3 separate regions of the Homo sapiens genome follow, and regions 1 and 3 are each linked to region 2. Evidence: fine-mapped expression QTL. A gene starts in region 2. Each other region holds a variant in brackets. All regions are shown on one strand. Distances are between the middles of the regions. Region 1 has its middle 7.0 kb from the start of MGAM. Region 2 holds the start of MGAM2 (maltase-glucoamylase 2 (putative)). Region 3 overlaps MGAM (maltase-glucoamylase).

Region 1 (6,289 bases), 120 kb after region 2:
TGCACAACATCTATGATGTTGCCTGACTGTAGCAGTTTAAAGGCTTAGCTCCAAGTCCCTGGATTTAAAAACATGGTTCAGGCCAGACCAAGGTATAATCATTGTGGTGCCTGGAGTGGCTTGCTGTCTGGTGACATGGCCTTATCTAGGCTTGGAGATATTAGAAAAGCATGTCTACTTGGGAGCCTCGAAGACTATGCAAACGTGAGGATTGGAATGTGATTAAAATATCTCCTTTTCTCGGCCAGGTGTGGTGGCTCACGCCTGTAATCCCAACACTTTGGGAGGCTGAGGCAGGCGGATCATGAGGTCAGGAGTTTGAGATCAGCCTGACCAACATAGTGAAACCCCGTCTCTACTAAAAATACAAAAATTAGCTGGGCATGGTAGCGCGTGCCTATAATCCCAGCTACTCAGGAGGCTGAGGCAGGAGAATTGCTTGAACCTGGGAGGCGGAGGGTGCAGTGAGCCGAGATTGTGCCATTGTACTACTCCAGCCTGGGCAACAGAGTGAGATTCTGTCTCAAAAAAAAAAAAAAATCCTTTTCTCCATCCCCAGCCACCACCCTTACCCTAACCATTGTGACCCCACCTCTGGATCAAGCATTAGCCCTGGGGCTGCCTCCTCACTTCCGGCCACAGAAAATATAGCAATAACCACTTCCTCCACACAATTCCATCAATATACAGTCATTATGTGTGTACTACAAACAAGGCACTATGAGAATAACAGTAACAACATCTACAGAGTGCGTACTGTGGCCTATGTTCTATGCTAAATGATTTCCATGCATTATTTCACTTCCTCCTGGTAACTACGCTATGCAGTCGGTACTGTTATTATCCCAGTTTTACAGATGAGAAACCTGAGGCACAAAGGCGACTTGCCCCAGGTCATGTAACTAATGAGAGGCAAACCCAGAATGCAAAGCCAGGCAGTCTGGTCAAGCCTGCACTGAAATATAGATGAGCGTGATTCCTCCATGACCTCATAGCAGAGAGAAGTCAAATGGCTACGATGCTAAAGAGAAGACAGCACCAGCAAATGCTACTGGACAGAGAATACACATGCTGGGAGGGACAGGAAAGAAATCAAAGCCATAGCTGGGTGGAAGTGGGAAGGGAAGGCGAAAAGGAAAGATATTTTGGGCGAAGGGAGCAGCATTAGCCAGACCCACAGGTAAGAAATAACAGAACCGGTGCAGCGCACCAGCATGGCACATGTATACATATGTAACTAACCTGCACATTGTGCACATGTACCCTAAAACTTAAAGTATAATAATAAAAAAATAAAAAATAAAAAAACATAAAAAAAAAGAAATAACAGAACCTGTTTTAGAAACTGCAGTAAAAAGACACAGAGAAGACAGTTGTGAGACAATCAGGGACACTTCTGGGAAAGTACACTGGAGCCACAATGCAGAGATTCTAGCATCTCATCTCAGCAAGAAGATTTTGCAAGCAATAGGGAACCACTGCAGGTAAGAAACTGCCCAGAGCTGTCATAAGCACGAGATAGATTTCTACACAGATTCAAAACACTGGATTATCTGCTTCTTTCAGTTTTTAGTCCAGAAGAATATTACTTCTCCCCACACCTCCAAGCAGACTAAGTATCCACAGGGGACTCTGGAAGCTGCACAGGTGCATGTTCTTTGGAGTGAAGTTGTGTAGATATGAGGAGGGAATGAAATAATGCATGTGAATCATTTGGCATGATACATAGGCCATAGTAAGCATTCTATGTGTGTTGTAATTGTCGTTCTGACATTTCCCCTTTCCCAAGCCACTGGGGTAATAGTGCATTCAAGAATATATTGCTCTGTTTTATAGGTGTGCATTCCCCAAAGTGCTCAGAGGAGTGCTAGCCACTCCTTAAGATGCTGCCCACAGAGCCTCCTCAAACTCTCTGTCAAAGCCAGACCCACATGAAGAGCCCATTCTGAATGCTGAGCCCAGAAGTGACAGATGAGGCCCAGTGTGCATCCTTCCTCCTCCTACATGGAACATGACTTCATGTGTTCTCCCTTCCTGGAATAAAATCCTTGTAGAAAATAATAATTTTATCTGTGTGGATTTTACCAGTAATTAACTATGGGTGGATTAGGTGTCCCTAAAATATCCCTTTAGTATGAAATTGTCAAACATAGTATTTCATTCAAGATAAATCTTTTTTTGGAGAGTATTTTCATGTTAAATTTTCAGATGATTTCAACTGAAAATCTGGGGAATTTTCCATAAAAATTGAGGAATTTTGGAAAATTTGGAGAATGCACTTTAGGGATTCTCAGCCTCCATACAGCAGCAAGAGGATCACTTGAGCCCAGGAGTTTGAGGCTGCAGGGAGCTATGATAGCACCACTGCACTCCATCCTGGGCAACACAGCAAGACCCTGTCTCTAATAATCGAAAAAAAAAAAAAGAAAGAAGAACATGGAGTTTCAAATCAAACTAGCCTGGGCTTAAATATGAGGTCCTCTACTTACTTTCTGCAGAACTTGGACAACCATTTCAATTTTCTGAAGCTCAGTTGCCTTATCTGGAAATCAGGGATGATCATGAGTACTTCATGATGTTACTTTGAGCCTAAGCTGACATAAGTACCTGACATCCAATGTCAGTTTCCCAACCCCTCCTCAGCCAGTCCTTTCTGAAAATGAAATAATATCCAACAAGCAGTATCATTAGCTTAAATTCTGTTAAGAACTATTCCTCCAGTTCCTCAACCCTTAGGAATAGCCACAGTAAACAGTCAACACATCCCACACTGAACTGATTCCACAGGCCAATGGAGAAAAACCACTACTACAAGACTCTCTTTCTCTCTCTCTCTCTCTCTCTCCCTCTTTCTCTCACATACTCATACACACACACACACACACACACACTCACAAGCACATGGCATCTACACCCCCACCTATCAAAATGATTTCTCACAGTCTTCATAGCCTACAAACATTAATTTTTACCTCTGTTTTTATTGCAGCCAAGTTGTTTTCCTTCTTTTGTCCCATATAAAAGACCTTAACATCTCATGCCACCTGCAAAGGGCAAAAAGGAGTTAGTTGGAGTAGGAGTAATTTCTCTGCCCAGAAATGTTCAGAGGAAGGTGAGAGTGGAAACAATGTACACAGGACATTACAGCATT[T/C]CCTTGTCTTGTGAAATGTCTATTATTTAGCAGCTTTACACCGTCTTCTACTCCTTTCCTCTTCACCACCACAGATAAGAACACATGCACACACAAGTATGAGTACAGAGAGAATTTTAGGAATAACACATCACCTAGTATTCACATAAAACTTTACATTTGGCCATGCATGGTGGCTCACGCCTGTAATCCCAGCACTTTGGGAGGCCGAAGCAGGTGGATCACCTGAGGTCAGGAGTTCGAGACCAGCCTGGTCAACATGGTGAAACCCCGTCTCTACTAAAGATATAAAAATGAGTCAGGCATGGTGGCGGGCGCCTGTTATCTCAGCTACTCGGGAGGCTGAGGTAAGAGAATCGCTTGAACTTGGGAAACAGAGACTGCAGTGAGCCCAGATTGCGCCACTGCACTCCAGCCTGGGTGACAGAGTGAGACTCTGTCTCAAAACAAAACAAAAAACGACAACAACTTTGCATTGTGTGACACTTTGCAGTTTTCAGAGTACCTTTTAAATATTTTTGTTTTTTTTTAAGACAGAGTCTTGCTGTGTTGCACAGGCTAAAGTGCTGAAGTGCAGTGGCGCAATCTCGGCTCACTGCAACCTCCTCCTCCTGGGTTCAACCAATTCTTCCACCTCAGCCTCCTGAGTAGCTGGGATTACAGGCATGCACCACCACGCCCGGCTAATCTTTGTATTTTTAGTAGCTATGGTGTTTCACCATGTTGGCCAGGCTGGTCTTGAACTCCTGACCTCAGGTGATCCACCCACCTTGGCCTCCCAAAGTGCTGAAATTAAAGGCATGAGCCACCACGCCCAGCCTCGGAGTACTTTAATCTGTACTATTTCATTGATCACAACAATCCTTTAAGATAAGGCAGGTATTTTTAATGCCCATGTATAAATGAGGAAACAGAAACTAAGAGAAATGAGTTGCTAAAGGTCACTCATATAGTGGTGGGGTTAAAGTCATACTAATTTAATTTCAATCCAGGAATCCAATGTTCATAGGGTTTGAAAGCAGTAAATACAGAAAATGGCTTTTTCAAACTAAATGTTTGTTCATTCATTCAACAAATTCAAAGTGGATTTGCCACCAAGTCTCCCAAACGGGAATCCCTCCAATCCTATCAGTTGTCAAATTCTAGCATCCTCACCTCAGAGATGGCTATTTCTCTTTAAGCTCAAATCTTGTTCTAGAAACCCCCATTATTTCCTCCATGCCCCCCTCCCCTGTGCCTCGCTGACACCTGCATGGTCCACTTCTGTGTGGGAAGCTCAACATAACCCTAACACTCTGATCTCAGCTGAGTGAACCAGCTGGACAGATGATCCGACTTCGTCCAGATGGATTCGCCCTCCCAAAAATTTAGATTTGAGACACAGTGCCTGAATCATACTGCACTGAGTGAGCACTATGTCTGTGGGATTACGGCATGTTATTAAGATACAGAGATTAGTTTTACTGAAAATGCTTGTTTGTCCAAAAGAGAATGGGATACACATGTAGAGAGTAGCAGAAAGAAAACATTCAAACCCACAGAAGGAAAAGCAGAGAGATTAACTGCCAGTATTCTTTTCATTTCTGTGAAGGCCAAGGTACAAGTTAATTTCATGTAATTCTCCTATTTCTTCATCAAAACACTACCTTTACTATGCCTATGACTACCACCACCACTACCAGCACCACCACTATCCTAACTTCCAGTTTCTGTTTCTGTGCCATGTGACAAAATGGTCCCTGCTAGCCCTGCTATGACAGGCTCGTGTTTCGTCTCCATTGTCCAGTATAAATAAATATCTCCACCAAAAATGTCTAATCATAGTCTACCCTATGAGCAAAAAGTTGTCCTCCTGTTATCTGCATTTTTCTGGCTTTTACCACCACCTGCAAGTGTAGGACCTCCAAATCTCCACAAAGTCCCTCCCAATTGTTTGGCATCCCCATTGAGTTCTATTTTTTTAGATGAGGGTACACATACCCTAGGAGGTATGTGGTGGCATATTGAGAGGGTCATAATGCATTTTCTTGGAAATACCATTTTAGTTCAAGATTATTGGAGAAGAGTAAGTAATTTCAATCAATATTTTGAATTGCTAAAATTGTGGCAGTATAATATAATAGTATGCAAATGTACACAATTGTTTTTCAACATCAAACACTAAATTCTGCAGAAATTTTCCCCTATAATGAGCCACTGGTAGGTATATTTCCCCTCAGTCCCCTACCCCAAGGGAAAAATGTGAAAAGAATGCCATAGGAAATGTCTTAAATTCACAAACAATGTCTTACAGCCATGTACGGTCTCTGTCATGTTTGCTGTCTTCTCTGGCTTGGCATCCTTCCTCCAGGTACCTCCCTCTCCTCCTGGTCTGCTCTCCGGGAATTGCCATGTCCACACTGTCTCTGGGTATGGCTTGAGCTCCCGTGTCTGCAGACAGAGAAAGAACCCTCCAAGTGCCAGAGCTACACAGTGTTCTCTTATGTGAAATCTGCTACGAAGAAGCACGAAAGGGCTGTCATCCAATGGCTTACAGCTCTATCAGCTTTTACTTAAAACCTCCTCACCCTTAGCTCATGTTTGTGAACAAAATAAAACTTTAAGAGGGGTCCAGAGATCCCTCAAAAGGAATCCCCACCCATGGGTCCCTGCTGAGAAAACTGATCTTATGTCCCTAATCACAAGGTTCCATGCTGCCATTAAAGATGCTGGGGGGAGGAGCCAAGATGGCCGAATAGGAACAGCTCCGGTCTACAGCTCCCAGCGTGAGCAACGCAGAAGACGGGTGATTTCTGCATCTCCATCTGAGGTACCGGGTTCATCTCACTAGGGAGTGCCAGACAGTGGGCGCAGGTCAGTGGGTGCGCGCACCGTGTGTGAGCCGAAGCAGGGCGAGGCATTGCCTCACTCGGGAAGCGCAAGGGGTCAGGGAGTTCCCTTTCCTAGTCAAAGAAAGGGGTGACGGACGGCACCTGGAAAATCGGGTAACTCCCACCCGAATACGGCGCTTTTCCGACAGGCTTAAAAAACAGGGCACCACGAGATTATATCCACCACCTGGCTTAGAGGGTCCTACGCCCACGGAGTCTCGCTGATTGCTAGCACAGCAGTCTGAGATCAAACTGCAAGGCGGCAGCG
Region 2 (6,289 bases):
TCTAGGTAAATTCTTATTTTTCCCCCTCTATTCTCAATGAAACAGTTTTTCCTCTTCTTGTTTAAGCATAATCCTTGTATCTGTTATCTAGATCTCACAGCTGTTGAATTTCTCAAAAATTTCATTCCACCAATTATCTCTTATTGTCTTGCATTATCAAATTCACTCTCTGAATATCTTTCCTTCATAAATATACCCCAAGTCACCCCAAACTCTGTTAATGACTCTGTGTGCTTCTGCAGGTAGCATAATAACATTCTTTTTCTTTCCAGTGCCAATCTTCCAAAACGATAGTTCCACACTTTCTGTATTCCCTTCCTCATGTGTTATTGGCTTGGCTGTGTTTTCTGCATTCCACTGGAAATGCTCCCACCGAGGTTACTAGTGACATAGTGGCTGAATACAATGGGCGCTGTCTTAATCACTTAACCACTTTCTCCTCCATGAAACTTTCCACATATGGATTCCTTGATAGGAATCTTGGCTTTCCACCTCTATTTCTGGCTTATCTTCAATATTCTTTGTAGTCTCCTATTTCTTTCTTTCTTTCTCTCTTTCTTTCTTTCTTTCTTTCTTTCTTTCTTTCTTTCTTTCTTTCTTTCTTTCTTTCTTTCCTTCTTTCTTTCTTTCTTTTTTTGAGATGGAGTCTCGCTCTGTTGCCCTGGCTGGAGTGCAGTGGCGCGATCTCGGCTCACCGCAACCTCCGCCACCCAGGTTCAAGTGATTCTCCCGCCTCAGCCCCGCGAGTAGCTAGGACTACAGGCACCCGCCATCATGCCCAGCTAATTTTTATATTTTTGTAGAGACAGGGTTTCACCATGTTGGCCAGGTTGGTCTTGAACTCCTAACCTCAGGTGATCCGCCCGCCTTGGCCTCCCAAAATGCTAGGATTACCTGCGTGAGGCACCACGCTCAGCCCTATTTCATTAAATGTTGATGCCCCCCAAATTCTGGTATAGGCTTCTTTTTTAAACTACGCAGACACGTTGGGTAATCTCCACCACTCATGTGACTTTATATGACATGTGATGGCAATCCAACCTGTATTTCTAGCCCAGGGATTTAGATTCATATATTCAACTGCCTATTGGATGTCCCACAGATTCAATAAGATTTAACATGTTTAAACATGAAATCATCTCTCCCCACACCTCACTCCCAGTTCCTGCCAATTTGGCCAAATTATCTGTTCTTCAAATAATTAATAACTTGAGGAATAGAATCACATTATAAAAAAAAAACCTAGGAATCTTTTTTTAATTCCTCTCATTCTGTTAGTTCTCACAGCCAGTTAACAGTTCAGTCAGACTACTTTCCCGGTATCTTTGGGTCATTACCCAAGTGACCAGCACAAACAGGGTCATTTGGATCTCCTATATTCAAGCCTTTAATGGATCTCTGAATAAACCAAAAACCCTTTAGCTTTGTGATCAAAGGTCTTCATGGCACGTCCTAACCCCAGCTGCTCAGCGTCTCCTCTCCCCATATTCCCACCATACTAAACCAGCACTTATGCAGCAACAAGCTATTAAATATAAGTCAGCAGGGACAAAGACTGTTCTCTCTCTTATTTTTATGTTGATTTTGCATCTCCTCTTACTTTTCATTTCCCTGCCTCCCTGCTCTTCTCAACTCCTCCCCAATGCCACGACCATTTCTACAAATATTTTTATATAGGTATATAGCTTCAATTTTTAATTACAGTAGCCTTTAGGTTAATGTGTAATAATTCCATAAAAGAAGCACTTTAATATTGAAATAGAGGTAAGGAACTAGGACCTACAGGTAATTTGCCAACAGGCATTTAGGAAGAACCCTTAGCCCTTGGAGACACGAGGTTTGGGATTAAAATTGAGGTTTATTAACTATTCTTTACTATTTACCTAAATTAATCAGTTGTCTCTCTTTTAGTCTAAATTATTTAAAAGATATACTCTAATCCCTATAAAATATATATCATATGACTGTATTCTCATAAAATCCCTGCATTGAAGCTGATCAGACAGATATCATGATTTCCATTTTATAGATGAATATTAAGAAATTTTGTCTAGTCACGGTTAGTGGTGGAACTGAGACAAACACCGAGAGCCGCTACTTTTTAAAATAGTACTTGAATACTCTCTCGACAATGTATCCTAGGCTGCAGAGCTTAAAGACTTAGAGGATCGGTCTCCAATGGTGGAATTTCAGGTAGAGAAAGAAGTAGGAAGGACCTACCCTAAGAGTGCTATGGTATCAAACTTCGTTTCTTATACATACAGCCCACAACTCAATACCACAGCAAAGGCATTATTCATCAATTGGTCTCTTTCTGCAAGTATTATTTCTCTCCACAGGGAGACTTTTTTCTTTCTAGCTTCTAAAAATCAGCAGCAGGGACCTACTCCACAGCTCCTCAATCCTCCTGAGGGAGCAGGTTCAGCACCTTAGCTCAGGAAGTACAGGAACGCTCTGGGAATAACCCTGGGTATTTTCCTGCCTTAGGAGCTATTGTCATTCAGGCAGAGGACAGGATGGGGATTCCTAAAGGTAGAAATTCTTGCCTACTTAGAAACCCTTCCTGCCCAAAGCTGGGAGGAATTCACCTTCCTCCAAATCCATGCCATCTTGAGATAGTTTCCAGAAGGATCCCATCTGTTTCCTCTGTCCTTAATTTCTCCCAGTGAGAGAGGAGGATCTCACACCAGACCTCCCCCAACCTGTCCTCCAAACACTGACACCACACACACACACACACACACACACACACACACACACACACACACAGTCTCTCCTCTCCATCAACTATCTCATCCTCACTCCTCATATTTTATGGAAAAGGAAGAAAATATTAAGTCCAGAAGGAAAACATGGGCATCCAGATCACTTAACAGAGCAGCAGACAGAAAATCACACAAAAAGAAAGGGACCTTCCTGCCCTTGTTCAAAGCCCTGCTTGCATGGAGAAGCGTACTCACCGCATCACCTTGTTTTTTTCTATGCTGTATCTCTCCCTCAGCAATTCATAGGGAGCACTGAGCAAAGGTAACTGGGCTGAGGTAGCCAGCTTCTGCCACAATTAATTTATTGCCTTATAAAGTTGACAGCAACTGGAGGAGGGGAGTGCATATTCCAATAGGTCATAAAAGAACGCTTGTTCTCCATGTGACACAGAATGAAAGCTCCTTTTGTTAATAAAAGGGGAAGGTGGTTTTTTTTCTACTCATTGTCCCTCTTCTGTATCCCTGTTCATATCTGATTACTTGTCACGTTATGTTTCCTCATCTATACATGTAGCCTAAAGGGCTCAAGAGCTAGGGTCTTGTCTATCTTCTTCACTGTTGTATCTCCTGTGCTTAGCACTCTGCCCAATATCCATAGTTCTTTTTAAATATATAGCTATTTATTTAATAAGTAAGTGAAAGAAGGATTAGCTCTTAGTTCATCACTTTGTTCTTTTCTCCATTTTCATCCTCCAGAGTTCTCTTGGTATAACTCAGCTTTTCATTAATTCAAATGATCCTTTCCACCAATTATTCTAAATAGTGAAGTACCATTAAAGTAGCAATTATACAAACCCGTCCAGGTGCAGTGGCTCACACCTGTAATCCCAGCACGTTGGGAGGCCGAGGTGGGCGGATCACCTGAGGTCAGGAGTTTGAGACCAGCCTGGCCAACGTGGTGAAACCCCATCTGCACAGCCAGGCATGGTGGCAGGCGGCTGTAATCCCAGCTACCCAGGAGGCTGAGGCAGGAGAATCGCTTGAACTCAGGAGGTGGAGCTGGCAGTGAGTTGAGATTGCCCTATTGCACTCCAGCCTGGACAACGAGAGCAAAACTCCATCTCAAAAAAAATAAAAGAGAAAGAATGTATACAAACCTAAAGTGGGAAGATGCCTCTAGTGGACATTTGTCATGTTCTTCGATGGCTCAGCATCTTTCAAAACCTCTTGCTAAGATGGGGGAGGTGGGGAGGGAGACAAAGGTAGTAACACTACCTATTGGGTACTATACTCACTACCTAGGTGACAGGTTCAATCACACCCCAAACCTCAGCATCACACAATATACCCTTGAAATGAACCTGTATATGCACCCTGAATCTTAGACCCTGAATCTAAAATAAAAGTTGAAAAAAATTTAAAAACGGAGGATCTTTCTTTAAAAAGAAAAAGAAAACCTCTTACTTAAATCAACTTAAGGACTTTTTCTCCAAATTCTGCCTCCCCAAAGAAACAGCTAGAAATTCTCTTTCACAGCCTTTCTTTCATCCAAGGTAGAGGCAAGTGGCTGGAGCTTTGTGAATGAGATATTCCTGTGAGTGACTTACATCCAGAAGAAGGTGTAGATAAGGAGGTACCATGTAAAATCCAGGATGTTGGAAGCATAGCTCGTTTCAGAGGCAGCAGGGACAAGAGACCTAGTGGCATCCTATGCTCAGTATTTGGGGTTGCGAGCTGCCAGATATGTGCTCAGGGCAGTGGCAGTAGAAACCGCTACAGGGTAACCTGGGGCTTGTCCCTAGCCACATGGCCTACAAACCTGACTCTCTAGTCCTACCGGAGTTTCAATGAGTCACCAATATCTTTTTAAAATTTTTCTTAAGCCAGCTAAAGTGGATTTTTAAATTGACATATAATTTCCAAACCATAAGATTCACTCTTTTAAAGTATACAATTCAGTGTTTTTAAAAATATATTTACAAAATTCTGAAACTATCACCACTATCTAATTCCAGAACATTTTTGCCACCCCCAAAAATAATTAGTGGTCACTCCCCATTCCCATCTCCCCCTGTTTCTGCAGCCACTAACCTACTTTCTGTCCTTATGGATTTGCCTATTGTGAACATTTCATATAAATGCAGTAATACAATATGTGGCCATCTGTGTCTGGCTTCTTTTACTTGGCATGATATTTTCAAAGTTCATCCACACCATTTCAGGTATCAGTGTCTGTTCCTTTCCATGTCTGGATAGTATCCACTGCGTGGATAGACCACATTTTGTTTAGGCATGTATCAGCTGATATACATCTAGGTTGTTGATACTTTTTGCCTGTTATGAACGATGCTGCTATGAGCTGACACGTTTTAAAATTCTGCCTGGAATATACCTAGGAGTGGAATCATGGGTCATGTGACAAGTCTTTAACTTTTTGAAGAACTGCAAAACTGCTTTCTAATGTGGCAGCACCATTTTACACCCCCATTCCTGCCAGTAATATATGAGGGTACAGAGAGCTCTTTTGGTGGCACCTAAGAACTGTAAATAACAGTGTTCACAGTAGTGAATCTTTTGTGTTTGCTTCAAATGCTCAGTATGTGGAAAAGCACACATACACACACACACGGAGAGAGAGAGAGAAAGTGAGAGAGAGAGAGGGAGGGACAGAGAGAGAGAGAGAGAAAGAGAGACTCGGTTTCTGCATTTATGAACTGCTGGAATGACATATTCAGCTTTTCATTTGCCCCAGTACAAGGTGGCCTTTGTTAGAGGGGAAATGTACCAAGATCTCATTTCAAATTGGGAAGACATCCTGGCAAAAGGTCAAGAAGGGAGATTTTATTGTTACATAAGATCTATTTTTTGTGTGATATTTTACCTTTAACTCCCCACATGCCATGCACATTTGTGACTTCATTTATGTTAATAGTGGTAACCAACAGGCCCAGCTAATCTATAACCTGTTTCCTAAAGTGCAGAAAATAGCTACCTTCACCTTCCATTCTTGCTAACTAGTAACTGGAAGATATTGAATCACCATACTGGTGTTGACCAATGAGAAAATAACAGAGCCACTTTGAAGGGTAGAGACAGGCACGTGACCCGACATCTTCCAGTTGTCTATCGGTAACAAGGCACGGCAAAGTTAGCTATTGGCGGAACTCAAACAGTTGTCACAGCAAGCTGCTGGTTGGAATCATCAGATCAGAAACTAGTAATATGAGTCACCCTTAACTTCCAGAACACCTTTCTCCAAGGCCAGATGCAAAACTCTCAGTGACTCTGCCGCTATGACAAGAACAAAGAAATATTGATGAGATCTTGAAGACATCTGCCACGGCCAACATAACCTTATCTTTGCAGGTATATATGACATTTAATGTTATAACATTAATAAGAAAGGAATAGATGTCTTCCTATTTAAGTGAAAGAGTTTGAGAGTGTTTTTTTTTTTATTTTGGCACACCTATGAAGAAAGCAAAATTATGTGATCTAAAAAACAGAGCATATGTGGAAAAGGAAGGCCCCCAGCCTCTTCCTGAATAGCTGGCCAGGAGTTGTAAGCATAGGTCCATGTTGTA
Region 3 (5,000 bases), 47 kb after region 2:
TGATGGACTTCAGCTCAGAAAGAGAGGAAGAGACACAGGTAGAATAAGAAACCATGTCTCAGGACCCCCACCAGCTCAGGCCTCTTCTCCTCGTCCTTTTCCCCAAGCCTCACAGCTGGGATCCTCCCCTCATCGGAGGCCTCCATACTCACGCGCTCCAGGACAGGGCTGACCAGGAAGGCTGGGCCCAGCAGGAACTGACTGTCTATGTCCCATGTCACCTGGTCTGACACAAACCTGGAAAGGGAAATGAAGGTGCCCAACAGAGCCCAACAGAGCCCCAGCCCGACACTCTGAAGAAGCTCCTCAAGTTCAGATCCAAGTCGGAAATACAGCTGCCCCTGAGCCATCCTTGCTTTGTTCCTAGGCCTAGCTTCATCAGGAGCACCCAGCCTCTGCTTTCCCCATGGGATGTGCCTCAAACTTCAGAAATGCTGGGATGTAGATGTGTTCTCTCCTGTAAAATATTACCTCATTTCTTAACCATGGCACATTTTAAATGTGAGGATGGCCCTCGTCCCTCAATTCTCTTGCTGAAATCCTTCTTTTGTGACCTGGGTCCATATAACAAAACTGCTACATAAGATAGGCCTTTGCACAACCAAATTAGAATGAAACTATTCTATGCTGTACTGCATCATTTCAATTTTCGTCATTCAATAAATACCCTTTTTTTATGACCTACGGTATGTATAACACTGTGCTAAAGACAGTAATCAGGTATACTTTGTGTCTGAAGAGCTCATGTCAAAAGGCCATCATGTCTTTAATTTGGAAGCGTTGTGTATATCAACTGCTACCACATAGAATGCAATAAGTCATCCATTAGTCATCGGGATCCCTGCTGGACACTCACTCATGGAGCAGAGGCCGCACAACAGTGACGCCCTCCGTGTGGGCCTTTTGCATCAAGGTATACAGATATGGCAACAGGGTGTATCTGGTCTGCAGGACATTTCTGGAAATATTCACAAAAGCAGCATCCCAGGACACAGGGTCTTGTCTCTAAAGGAGAAAGAGAACAGTGTTGGGAGCTCGCCCTGGAATTTCTAGGGGATTTAAGAAGGTCACTAAAAGCATACTCCAATTGAAGATCACTCACAGCTAAACAAAAGAAAACTATACATGAGGCCCAGAGAATATTCTTAATAGACCGGAAAGAGTCACCAAAGCTCTCCTAAGACAGCTGATAAAATTTCACTGTAAGACATTCTTTTTGGAACATTTGGTAAAATTCTGCCTGAAATACAGGAAAAAAATAATAATCTAAAGCACAATGAGGAATATGGTTCATTGAGACACCAGGTCTTCACAATTTTTAAGGGTGCAGTGGCTCACGCCTGTAATCCCAGCACTTTTGGAGGCTGTCGAGTGGATCGCTTGAGCCCAGGAGTTCGAGACCATCCTGTGAAATATGGCAAGATCCCATTTCTACAAAAAATCAAAAATTAGGTAGCCACGCTGGGATGTGCCTTTATCCCAGCTATTCAGAAGGCTGACGTGGGACAATCGCTTTAGCCCCAGAGGTGGAGGCTGCAGTCAGCCATGATTGGGACACTGCACGATTCAGCCTGGCCAACAGAGTAAATCCCTGTTTCAAAAAAAAAAACAAAACAAAACAAAACAAAAAAAAACACCTTTTTTTAAAGATATCCCAGGAAATAGAGACTGCATTACTTTTAGCACAGAAATGGAGACTGTCTTTCAAGTGACATAAAACAGTGGAGGTAGAAGCCACTGTCCTACCCTGGTCCCAATGGTATTGTGGTTTCTTGAGAAGGGGTAAAAGGCCCCCAGCTGCATCCAGCGAACACACATCTCGTACTCAGCGTCTTGAAAGAACCCACAGATATCTGCTCCCGTCTGAAACAAGAGGAAATAAAAGGAGCCTGCTGATGATTTCTGAAAGATGTCCCCACCTTCTTGGTGCTTAGGAGGATCCCAAGGACACTCACATAGGATATGCC[A/G]AAGAGGCTGAACTCCATCATGCCTGCAACGAGAAGCACAGCTGTGTCACACCAGGCTCTCATGATCTGCCTCCTCACCTCTTCCCTAAGGATCCCAACTCCCTGCCCTGTCGGCAAAGGCCCTGGGGAAGGACCCACGCACCAATGATAGACTTCTTCAGCTGATCCCATGCGGCCGTGTTGTCTCCCAGCCAATGTCCTGCCCAGCGGCCAGAAGAGGGAAATGTGGAGCGGGTGATGACGACCCCTCGCTGTCCCGTCACCTCCTGCACGGCTCTGCTTGGAAGGGAACAGGAGGTGAACTGAGGCAACAGCCAGGGAGTAAAGGCCATAGAGCTTCTGCTCCCAGAGCCCTTGAGCCTAGTCAATGTTTGCTGCGTGACTGGAGGGAACATGGGACTCTGAGCTGTAATAGGAGTTCCACTGATCCCAGATGATGGAGATAATGAGTCACGTGTTCTCACAGTGCTTTACAAAGAACTTCACTGTAGCAGCCTCACTGGAGTACTCCCAAAATACTAAGGAATTACTATGTCTTGCTAATGGTTTCCTCAATACTTAGTTTTCTATATTTGAGAAGGAACACAGTGAAGGTTATAAGATCCTCTTAGAAGAATTCATACTATTCATTGAGCTTGCAAAGCAGGACTGTGCTAATTCAGTACAATACCAGTTACCCTCCACCAAGAATGGCCAAAAATACAAACATCTCCAAAGATGATTCACTTTGAAATGAACGGGAGAGATGCCCAGTCCTCTGTGTTCCCTTCACCTCCTGTAACTAAAGCTATTGTTCCACTGGCTGCCCTGTGTGACCATTATGGTGTCTCCATGTGAGTCTTTCCCACTAGGATCATTAAGTTTTTCACTGGTGGGACCATGCCTTATTTAAATCTGTCCTCCTACTTTTAATCACAGGGCCTGGCTCCATGTCAATGAGCATTTGTTTAATAAATAAGAATCATTACAGAGTTATGAGAATCTTCTTAATCCTTAGAAATGGAATGAAAGGAAAACTAGGGTAGCTATGTCAGTCACTGGCAATCGCTATAGGTTGTGACAGCTGGAGAAGGGAGACGGAGACTCACTCGTATGTGGGTCTGGTCTGGGACCACCCATACAGGTTGTGCACGTTGTAGTGCTGCACCAGGGAGCCGTCTGGGAGGATCTGCTGACTCTCCATACAAAGGGTCTTGCTGCTCAGGCCCCTGTCCCTGGACTCCAAATCTGAGGAGGAAGAACTGGCGAGGTGAAACCCAGCCCTGATTCTGTTTCTCCCTGACTTCTCTTCAAGGGACTGGGCCCTGGATCTTAAGACTAACTTCAGTCCTGCCTGTGTCGCTCTCCATCTCCCCAGAGACATGAGCACAGCGCCCCCAGCTCTGAGCTGCATTGGCGCCTGCTGTGTTTCCAACATCAAGTTCACTGAAGGAAGCAGAGGTGTCAGGAAGAACGTACAGCTGTCAAACACTACATGACGGGCTCTGATTTAGGCTTTTGACTTCCAATTATTTCCATAATTCTATGAAGAAGATCTCATTATCCGTCTTTTACAATTTAGCAAACTGAGATTTGGAAATATCACATAATCTGTGAAAAGTCACAAAACTCCTAGAGAGAACAATTTCTGGAGCCAAGATATGAACCCAAGTGTAACTCCAAAGTCCATCAGCTCCATGATAAGGGGAAGCCAGTAATTTCCACTCACTGATGACACAAGAAATTCCTGTGATGGAATTCACACAAGCCTAAAAACTAAGAAACTCAGCTGTGAGAACCCTTTGTGCCATGAGCTCTGCTAAGTGCTTTCTGGACAAATTTCAAGAAATTTGCTCAATGAGTCTAGTCACTTGCCCATGCCCGGCTGGGTAAAGCACGTGCAGAGCTTTTGTCTCTGGTCCCCAGTAAACCACAGCAGCCATGAGGATGTGCCCTCAGCTGTGGGGCTGCCCCTGGCCTCGGGCTCCTCCAGTGTAATCCTTCCAGTCATGGCTCTGCCAGTCAAGGAGGCCAAGGCTTCTTACGTGGCATGTAGGGAGGGTGGTTCAGAGAGGCGTCCCTGCAGCCTGGAGAAACTGCCCCATTCACGAAGCTTGATGGTTCATTCATATCCTAGAAATGCCAAACACAGACATACCTCACTTTTTAAGATAATTACGTCCTGCCAATTCTGAGCCAAGGAAGTAGTGAATAAATTGTTCAACATCCAGTAATCTCTGTAGATGCCAGCCCTGGGAGCTTCATCAAATCCTGGTGAGAACTGGCTAGAAAGATTAATTCACTCCTACAGAACGACTGGCTAGAGGGGTAAAAAAATAGATCTCTTTCAGGGTGGCTGTGAGGCAATCAAATTTCCAGAAATTCCTAGTAAATTGCCTCCCAGGTTTTTTTTTTGGTTTTGTTTTTCATTCTTTGAGATGGAGTTATGCTTGTTTCCCAGGCTGGAGTGCAATGGTGCGATCCTGGCTCACTGCAAACTCTGCCTCCTATGTTCAAGCGATTCTCCTCCCTCAGCTACCCAAATAGCTGGGATTATAGGCATGTGCCACCACACCCAACTAATTTTGTATTTTTAGTAGAGACGGAGTTTCTCCATGTTGGTCAGGCTGGTCTCAAACTCCCAACCTCAGGTGATCTGCCCACCTCAGCCTCCCAAAGTGCTGGGATTACAGGCGTGAACCACCACGCCTGGTCCCGCCTCACAGGTTTTACAGTAGGAGCGTCAGGTCTGGTAGAAGGTGTGAGGGCTACCAGGGCAGTTCCTCTCCTGAGAGGAAGAAGTGTCTGCTATGTCCAAAGTCTTCTTTGGACAATGACTATCCTCTTGATTGAAGGTCAGTGGTACATATACTTAGGCACACAAAGATAGACAAGAGCCACTGGTACACAGAGACACACACACACTTACAATCCACATGCCATCAAACTTCAAGCTCCTCTCTGGATTCTGTGGATTGTTGTATAGTTCTTCTATTTCCCTCTTCCACCACTTGGCAGTTGAATTACGGAAAAAGTCTGGGAAGGCCACATAAG

What was found.
Region 1: its variant is fine-mapped to the expression of MGAM2 in whole blood (TOPMed, PIP above 0.99).
Region 3: its variant is fine-mapped to the expression of MGAM2 in tibial nerve (GTEx, PIP above 0.99).

What each region holds. Positions count from the first base shown.
Region 1 is chr7:141,985,688-141,991,976 of GRCh38, reverse strand. It overlaps a transcript of MGAM not described here. Among named protein-coding and RNA genes, the nearest start is that of MGAM, 7.0 kb to the left of the region's middle. The variant T/C (reference allele first, on the strand shown) is at 3,152.
Region 2 is chr7:142,108,479-142,114,767 of GRCh38, reverse strand. It overlaps MGAM2 (maltase-glucoamylase 2 (putative)), which reads right to left and starts at 3,050. Exons shown (of 48, transcript NM_001293626.2): 1 at 2,961-3,050.
Region 3 is chr7:142,062,578-142,067,577 of GRCh38, reverse strand. MGAM (maltase-glucoamylase) reads right to left here. Exons shown (of 71, transcript NM_001365693.1): 35 at 4,876-5,000; 36 at 3,992-4,079; 37 at 3,056-3,194; 38 at 2,110-2,243; 39 at 1,956-1,990; 40 at 1,747-1,863; 41 at 857-1,005; 42 at 153-237. Among named protein-coding and RNA genes, the nearest start is that of MGAM2, 47 kb to the left of the region's middle. The variant A/G (reference allele first, on the strand shown) is at 1,968.